Linked DNA regions of Homo sapiens. The protein of the gene in region 2 purifies or fractionates together with the protein of the main gene of each other region. This does not show direct contact. Each region holds a gene or a part of one and is shown on either strand. Other genes may lie near its edges.

Region 1 (4,485 bases), on a different chromosome or scaffold from region 2:
CACCTGAGCTCAGAAGTTCCAGAGCAGCCTGGGCAACATGACAAAATCTTATCTGTACGAAACAATAGAAAAACTAGCTGGACATGGTGGCATGTGCCTATAGTCCTATTCAGGAGGCTGAGGTGGGAGGATCCCTTGTGCCCAGGAGGTCAAGGCTGAAGTGAGCTGTGATAACACCACAGCACTCCAGCCTGGGTGACAGAGTGACACTCTGTCTCAATTTTTAAAAATATAAAACAAAAAAGTACAAATTTATCAATCTAATTCACTACTTTAACAGATTAATGAAAAAATGCGGTGATAATCACAATAGATGCAGTGTTTGATGAAACTCAACATATATCCAAAATGAATACTCTCAGCAAACTGGAGCAGAGTGGAATGACTGACTGTTGAAGTCAATCTACAAAAAAAGTACGGTAAATATTATGTTGAAATGTTGAAATTTTTCCATTTCTGATCAGGGATAAGACAGGGATGTCCACTATCGCCATTATACCAGTGGGTCTGCCCAATGCCCCTAAAATCAGAAAAGGAAATAAAAGTGTTTAAAATGGCAGCAACAGGCCGGGCGCAGTGGCTCATGCCTGCAATCCCAGCACTTTGGGAGGCCGAGGTGGGTGGATCACTTGAGCTCAGGAGTTCAAGAACAAATTGGGCAACATGGCAAAACCACGTGTCTACAAAAAATACAAAAGAAAACAGAAAAAAAAGTGGCAGAAACAAAATTGTTCTTATTCAAAGACGATATGATTCTGTATGTTGAAAACTGAAAAGGATCTAGAAGTAAACTTTTAGAATTAATAAGCATATTTAACAAGGTTGCTGGATAGAAACTCAATATGTAGGAATTATGCCTCTACATACCAGCTCAAACAGCTAGCATATAAAATGTCAAAGAATGATACACATTTCAGAGCATCAAACACCTGGAAGTAAAATTAACAAAAGATGCACAAGACTTCTTTGCAGAAGGCTGTAAAGCTTTATTGGGAGAATTTTAATGGTCAAATTTCCAACACAGGAGCAGCCTGAACCATTTCAGCGTGTCTTCTTTTAAGGCTGTGATTGCCCTTCATCTGTAACAGAAACATAACTGTTAGGAAGATGATTTAGCAGCAGATTATTTAGATGACCCAAAAGGCACACAAAGGACACTACAATTTGGGTTTTATAAAATGGACTAAAAATAGAACTCTAAGGGCGATCCTGTGTCTTATAGCCAAGTAAACCTCTGTATAAATTTTGAGGGTAGACCTGTAGAATTTAAAGGTAATTAATTCCGTAAACATCAGGTGCTTCCTTTAAATCCAGAAGCACTTATAATTAACAGTCAGCAACTTGGAAAACACATGTGTAAAACATACTTCGGTGGATTACTCAGAAAGTACTGGAGTCATGGTCTTTGAACTTCAAATCTTACCAACTGATGCCTCAAAATCTGAAACCTACATGCAACATTTGATATGGTTAGAGATCATGTATGTGTCTACAGTCTTATTAGAAATAGTGGCTCATGAAGACTGACAGTGGGGCAGGGAGTGTGCGTAGCACAGGCATCTTACTCACACCCATGCTGAGCATCACTGACCTACATCCCACAGAAAATAGAAACTAAATGGTCTCTCACCATTTGATTATTCACTCACTCAAGGTTTCCTTGGAGAAAGATTTAAAAAGCACTTATTCATTAAGGGCCAGAGAATCCCAGCCTGGGCAACACAGTGAGACCTCATCTGTATAAAAAAAATTTTTTAACAAAACAACATCAGTCAGGCATGGCAGCTTGTGCCTGTAGTTCCAGCTGCTCAGGAGGCTAAGTTGGGAGGATCACTTGAGCCTGGGAGGCTGAGGTTGCAGTGAGCTGAAATCGCACCACAGCACCCCAGTCTGGGTGACAGAGTGAGACTTGTCACTCTGTCAGAGCGACAATTCAAAAATTGACAGTACCTAAGAATAGGCATTCAGGTCTCCACACAGAAAAACTAACATGAAGCAGAGTGCCCGCTCCCTTTCTTAGTAGCAATGAAATCTCAATTCAGAGGTTTTCAGATGACTCAGGCCAGGGTTTCATGATTTATGATAAATAAATCATGTAAAACAGATGATCTCTGTATCCTATGCATTCTATGCAACAGGATCAGAGTATGAAAGAACCAGAATGGAAAAGGATTTTAAAATATCTGACTTAAACTCACTATTTTTATAAGACCAAAGATAGGTTTAGAAGGTAAGGGATTTGCTCAGAATCTCACCAATGCTGTAAGAGCTGGTATTAGAACCTGCATCCGTGCTTCAGCATATTTCACACCAACTGATGGGTGTTACAAATGTGTTATGTATTTATTAAAAGCAGACCTTTACAAAAGCATCTGAAAATCATGAGCTATTGGTTTAAGGATTTATACTCAAAAGTTATAATTCAATATGGCTTTGTCTCAGTTTGTTTCTGTATCTGACAGTCTATAAGTTGGCTGCTGGGACCTGAACTACATTTCAAATAACCTTTATATAAGAATTCTATTATTAAGGAGGCAGTATTGTTACCCCTGTGTTATTAAAAACATAATACTGGGTCAGGTGCAGTGGCTCATGCCTGTAATCCTGGCACTTTAGTAGGCTGAGGTGGGTGGATCACCTGAGATCAGGAGTTTGAGACCAGCTTATGCAAAATGGCAAAACCTCGTCTCTACTAAAAATACAAAAATTAGCTGGGCGTGGTGGAGCACGCCTGTAATCCCAGCTACTTGGGAGGCTGAGGGAGGAGAATCACTTGAACTTGGGAGGCAGAAGCTCCAGTGAGCCGAGATGGCACCACTGCACTCCAGCCTGGTTGACAGAGCGAGACTCTGTCTCAAAAAAATAATAATTATTATAATATGATACTGTGGAAACAGACACCCTACAATTTGCATGCCTAATGGATTGCCTACCTTCCTCAGGTGTTTTCACCTCCTCTGGATTTGGCAGGCCCAACTCCTGGACATCAGGACCATCTCCGCGCTCACACCCAGTCTTCGGGTGAACCTGTTCCTGGCTATCCGCTTCAGGCTCTGGCCCTTAAAAAAAAAAAAAAAAAAAAAAAAAAAAAATATATATATATATATATATATATATATATATATATACATATACATATATATATACATATACATATATATGTGTGTGTATATATATATATACATATACATATATGTGTGTATATATATACACATATATATGTGTATATATGTATATATGTATATATACACACATATATGTATATGTGTATATATACATATATATGTGTGTATATATACACACATATATATGTATATATATGTGTATATACACACATATATGTGTATATATGTGTGTATATACACACATATATAGGTGTGTATATATGTGTATATACACACATATATAGGTGTATATATATGTGTATATACACACATATATAGGGTGTATATATATGTGTGTATATACACACATATATATGTGTATATATATGTGTGTATATACACACATATATATGTGTATATATATGTGTGTATATACACACATATATATGTGTATATATGTGTATATATGTGTATATACACACATATATATGTGTATATATGTGTATATATGTGTATATATACACATATATATGTGTATATATACACATATATATGTGTATATATATAATCAATTTAAGCAGTAAAACATGAAATATGAACAAGAAAATAATATTCATGCTCTCAGTGTTATTAAATAAAAGCTTTCACTAGTGTAATAATAAATGTGTTGATAAGAATCCCAAGAACATGATTTCAGGAGTCTGTTGGCAGAAAACAGGAAAACAGGGTTTTCCAAATATTACCCTCTTCCTTTCCGAAGACTGCCCTCAGACAACTTTGTTGCTGCCTTTGCACTTCTTTATTATTCTACTTCTGATTGTCCTTATCATATTAAATGACTCAAGACTGAAACCCTGTCTCTCACAGCACTTACACTCCTGGCACTTAGACTCCTACATGGCATGAGTAGCCACCAATAAACGCTGAGTGAAAAAAGTTCTTTAAAAAATACATGAAAAATCCCCAAATCCTGAACATTCTGCACACCAACTTGTCTATCCTCTTCAAAAATGTCCGTATCCTGAATGACAAAGAAAAATTAAGGAAACATTCCAGATTAAAGGAAACTAGAAACACATGACAAGCACATGTAAGACGTGATCTTGAACTGGACTCTGGATCAGAAAAAGAAATTCTATAAAGGAAATTATCTGGGCCAGGCATGGTGGCTCACACCTTTAATGCCAACATTTTGGGATGCCAAGGTGGGCAGATCACTTGAGGTCGGGAGTTCAAGACCAGCCTGGCTAATGTGGTGAAATCCCGTCTCTACTAAAATACAAAAAAAAAAAAAAAAGAAACATTTATTTGTCAGGCACTGTGGCAGGGCTGTAACCTCAGGACTTTGGGAGGCTAAGCTGGGTGGATCATCTGAGGTCAG
Region 2 (4,966 bases):
TTAATGAAAAAGACAACTTCTGCATTCTCAAATTAGACACCAATGGATAGATAGTTATTGCCCAACAGAAGCTCCCTGAGATGTAACTGAACTCACTGTGGAGAGCAGGAATATGGCCATGTAACATAAGCCAGATAGTGGGTTTTTATACTCTTATAGTAATTGTATCACTTGTGGCAAAAGAAAAATGTATGTGGGACACAATCATGCAAAATAAATTACCAGAGTTAGTAACATTAAATTGAAAACTTTGCTACATTGCTACAAAATACCATTTTCACTTATCTTTTACAAGTTCCTTACTCCTGCTAGGGAATAACAGAAAAATTTACACTGCTCTACACCTGTTTTTTTAAAACTCATTTGCTTTTCTCTTATTTGTGAATATTCATTCTTCTCTTTGTCCCCATGTTTAAGAATATAGATTACTATTATACTATATATTATATACTATTATACCATTATAATGTATCTAGAGAGCACATTGAGTATTTTTAAACCACATATTTCAATCAACCTGTAACATCACAATATAGATATTTTGGTTCTAGCACAACACATACATTCCTGAAAAACCTCACACATTCTACATATAATAAAAATAACAGGCTTTATATTTGAAAAACAGGGTTGGCCTCAAAACCTATGGAACTTTATGAACAGATACCCTAACTAAAGCAGTAGCAATTCTAATAAAAATAGTGTCATAGTTAAATTTCGGCTATCATTCACAGCTAGCATCACAATCAGTCAATTATCTGCAGCCTCTAACACTTGGGCTCATGCTTCCTCATTTGATAGGTAGTTCCTTTAAGATATCTTATTAACAAAGAGTCTAATTCCATCAATATTAAAATGCCATCTAAGCCAGGCACGGTGGCTCATGCCTGTAATCCCAAGACTTTGGGAGGCCAAGGTGGGCAGATGCTTGAGTCCAGGAGTTTGAGACCAGCCTGGGCAACATGGCAAAACCCCATCTCTACAAAAAATACAAAAACTGAGCTGGGCATGGTAGCAATGAGCCTGCAGTCTCATCTACTTCTGAGGTGGGAGGATCACCTGAGCCAGGGAAGTCAAGACTGCAGTGAGCCATGGTGGCGCCCCTGCACTCGAGCCTGGGTGACAGTGAGACCCTGTCTCCAAAAAATAAAATAATACACAAAACAAAAACAAATGCCATCTAGGAAAGCCTTCATTAATGTCTTTTAAACTACTTCCTCTACTCTCTATACTTGTAACTTCCCAAGGTAGCTTAACATAGGGGTCTTTAAAGCTACTTCCACTCAAGTAAGGCACTTCTGCAAGATTTTCAGCTTTCCTTTAGGTCTTCATATATTATGAAGGGTTTTCCTGTATCTATAACAAAGCCTGCCCTGGTCTCTTCAAAACCATTAGTGAACTTCTGGGGGAAAAAAACTAGACTCCACATTTCACTGACATCTTTGACCTATTTACCAATCACATATGAGATAAGCATTAAAGAAATACACTGCACCAAACACATCACACCGGAAGTATCTTAAAAGCAACATGCACAAAACCGTTAAGAGAGCTTCCTGTAGATTTAAGAGTTAGTGATACTGAATTTTAAAAAGGAAAAAGTTTAAGTACAGGAAGCAAGTCAAGAAAACACAAGTCACTGTCAGATTCCCCAAGCTTTGTTGTTTCTTTGCCCATGGTGATGAAAGTAACATATTTTTCTTACCATTAACAATGTCACCTTCTTGTAAGGGCCTTCTGTCTGGTATTCCATGGCAAATGACTTCATTCACTGAGGTACAACAAGACTTTGGGAAATTATAATAATTCAGGGGAGAAGGGTAGCAATTTCTTGCAATACATGCCTATAATACAGAAAAAATAATTTGGAATATATAAAAGAAAAAATCTGTATGAAATTACAGATTTTAAAATTTGAAAAATGTGAAAACAGTTGGACACATGCTACTATGAAGAACTCAGTATTTTATTTTAGTAACAGTACTGGATATTATCTTAAACAATATACAACAGGGTTTGTGCCAGTCAGGTACACATACACAAACCAGTTTACTGGTAACTGCACAAAGGAAAAGTAAAATGACATACAGGTTAAGTATTCCTAATCCAAAAATCTGAAATCCTCCAAAATCTGAAACTTTCTGAACACCGACAGGACACTCAAAGAAATGCCCATTGGAGCATTTAGAATTTCAAATTTGAAATTACAGACACTTAACCAGTTACGTATAATACAAATATTCCAAAATCCAAAAAAATTCAAAATTCAGAACACTTCTGGTCCAAAGCATTTCAGATAAGGGATACTCAACCTCTATAACAAATATATATATAAATATTACCACATATGAAGATTTTACTTTAGAATTAACTAGTCCTTATGAAAAATGTTAAAGTAAAAATAAAATATTTGAAGTAAATATTAACAAGCATTTTTGATGTAATTATAATTCTTATGTTGAAACAAGCCTATATCACTATGCCCCAAAAATGACTACTAGTATAATTAAGAAACGGTAAAGTACTTCCAGATATTTTAATAACCACATTCAGTGGAACAACAAAAGAACTCCTAACAGAAAAACATGGTCTGCTCTCCATAACAAGTCTTACTTTACTGGATGCTTTTACACAGTGGTAATCACAGTATACGTAATTTCTGTTTCCAACCTGCTCTAGTCTTCAGGCTAATATTTTTTAATGGTTGCACAATATACCATTTGCAGAATATGCAGAATATACCATGATTTTACTAGCAATTCCATTCTTACTGAAAATCTAAATTAATATGAAGTTTCCTCAATTACAAAAAAAAAAAAAATCTTACAACCAATAACTACATTTGTGGCTTTTCCCTCATTTAGGAATATACTTCTCTACTTCTCATAGCATTACAAATAATAGTTCAGAGCATACAGAATTAGACTTTCTAGATTGAAAATGCCAATTCCATCACTTACAAGTTGTGTAACTTTTACCAATTTAATTAATTAACCTCTCTCTTCCTCAGTTTCCTTACCTATAAAACGGAGATTACAATAGTACCTACCCTCAAGAGGTTGTTGGTAAGATTAATGAGTTAATGTAAAAGAAGCACTTGAGTACCTGGCCCACAGAGCATACTCAAAATGCTATTATTGCATACGATACGTCTTATACTAACATATGAAACAATACCCAAAAGTCAGGATTAATAAGATTCTGAATAAAAAATTTATAAACATTTTCATAGCTCAAGATAGATTGTCAAATCCTTCCAAAAGGGTTCTTCCAATTTACAATACCATCACCAAGCAGAAGAGAGGACCAGTTTCATCATTTCCACACAAGCAATGCATATAAACATCTTTAAAATACAAATTTACTAGGTCTTTATAATTTGTATTTGTTTACTAGAACACGTGTGATCTGCTTTCCATATGTTATATTAACTACTTATCACTCTTTTTTTTAAAATTCATATAATGTGTACACTCATCTAATAAGGTCTTAAGGTCTCTCTTTGATGGGCAGACAATCTTTATTTATTTATTTTTAATCCCTATACTTACTACAAATATTTATGTGGACTGTTCATTGCCTTGAGGAAACATTTAACTAATCTACCATCAGAAGTCATATTCTTTTTTTTATTTCAGAATATTTGATGTCTGTAGTGGCAGGATTTACTTAAAGCAGATAAAATCAATCATTTTATAAAAGCTCAACTGAAATGCTTATTACAAATATGTTGTTTCAGAAACAAGATATTTCAAGCTTACCTCAGACCTTAATATTATAGATTCTTAAAGATGAGAATAATGACTGTTGAATGTTTTCCATATTTGAAACAAAGCAAAAATTTGCTTTCAAATGAGTTTACCCAAGTTACCTTAGACACTCAGAACTTAAATCTACTTAATGTTTAAGTTCAAAGCATCTAGTAATGTAACAAAATTACTCAAAGTAAAAAAGTGAAGTTCTTACTAAGTGTACAGCGTGATCTATTTCTTCAGTAGTTACACCTGGTTTAATCATGCCGGCAGCAACATCCAAAACTTCTCTAGCAAGCTGTAAAAAAGGAACACTCAATACATTAAAAAAGACACAGAAACAGAAATCTATACCCTTTCTACTGTTTGACTGTGGAAGATTGGTAAAAATGAATCTCCCCTTGAATATTATAATTTTATAGAAAATATATAAATATATTATATGTAAATACATAAAAACAAACATTAATTTTATATAAAAATTGGGTTAACAAGCAAGCAGCAGTAAGGTTGGCTGATTTCTATGTGAAAATATACATCCTAAGAAATCTAAACTATCATCAACTGATAGAGGTAGTCTTCTCTCATTTCTATAATGGGGAAAAGTAGAGGAAAAGAAAAAAGAACAGATGAGCCTGGGCAACATAGTGAGATCCTGTCTCTTAAAAAAAAAAAAAAAAAAAGTAGTCAGGTGTAGTGGCACATGCCTGTGATCCCAGCTACTCAGGAGGCTGAGGTGGAAGGATAGCTTGAGCCCAGGAGTTTGGAGTTACAGTAAGCTATGAGCTATGATCTATATGATCTATGATTGTGCCACTGTACTCTAGCCTGAGTGATAGCAAGACCCTGTCTCAAAAAAAAAAAAATAGATGAATGAATTCCTCAAAGAATCACAGCAAGTCATAGGAAGAGAAAGTTCTCCAGGATATCAAACAAAATTAGAATCAAATCACTTTTAAAGCACTGAATAGAAACCTTAAGAATCTTACTTAAATGAATAATATCAATGTATTATATTTTCCTTCAGAATAAATATGTGATTTCACCTAATGAGTACCAACCACTACTACCACTCATCATAGGTATTTCACAAAAAGGCCTACAGCATAACCCTCTGAGCCTTAAACTCTGTCCTATGTTATGATGACTTGTGAAAATAAAATGACAAAATGTTTTTAAATATCATTAAATAAATGAAAAGGATTGTCATCTAA

The links.
Region 1: the proteins of METAP1 (region 2) and PAGE1 purify together in Homo sapiens (co-immunoprecipitation; one large-scale study listed by IntAct). This does not show direct contact.

The regions. Positions count from the first base shown.
Region 1 is NC_000023.11:49,686,485-49,690,969, forward strand, and holds the end of PAGE1 (P antigen family member 1), read right to left. Parts: intron 3,060-4,485; coding exon 2,934-3,059; intron 1,080-2,933; coding exon 1,057-1,079; 3' UTR 963-1,056; downstream 1-962.
Region 2 is NC_000004.12:99,040,127-99,045,092, reverse strand, and holds part of METAP1 (methionine aminopeptidase 1), read right to left. Parts: intron 4,051-4,966; coding exon 3,967-4,050; intron 1,845-3,966; coding exon 1,706-1,844; intron 1-1,705. UniProt on the Homo sapiens protein: Cotranslationally removes the N-terminal methionine from nascent proteins. The N-terminal methionine is often cleaved when the second residue in the primary sequence is small and uncharged (Met-Ala-, Cys, Gly, Pro, Ser, Thr, or Val).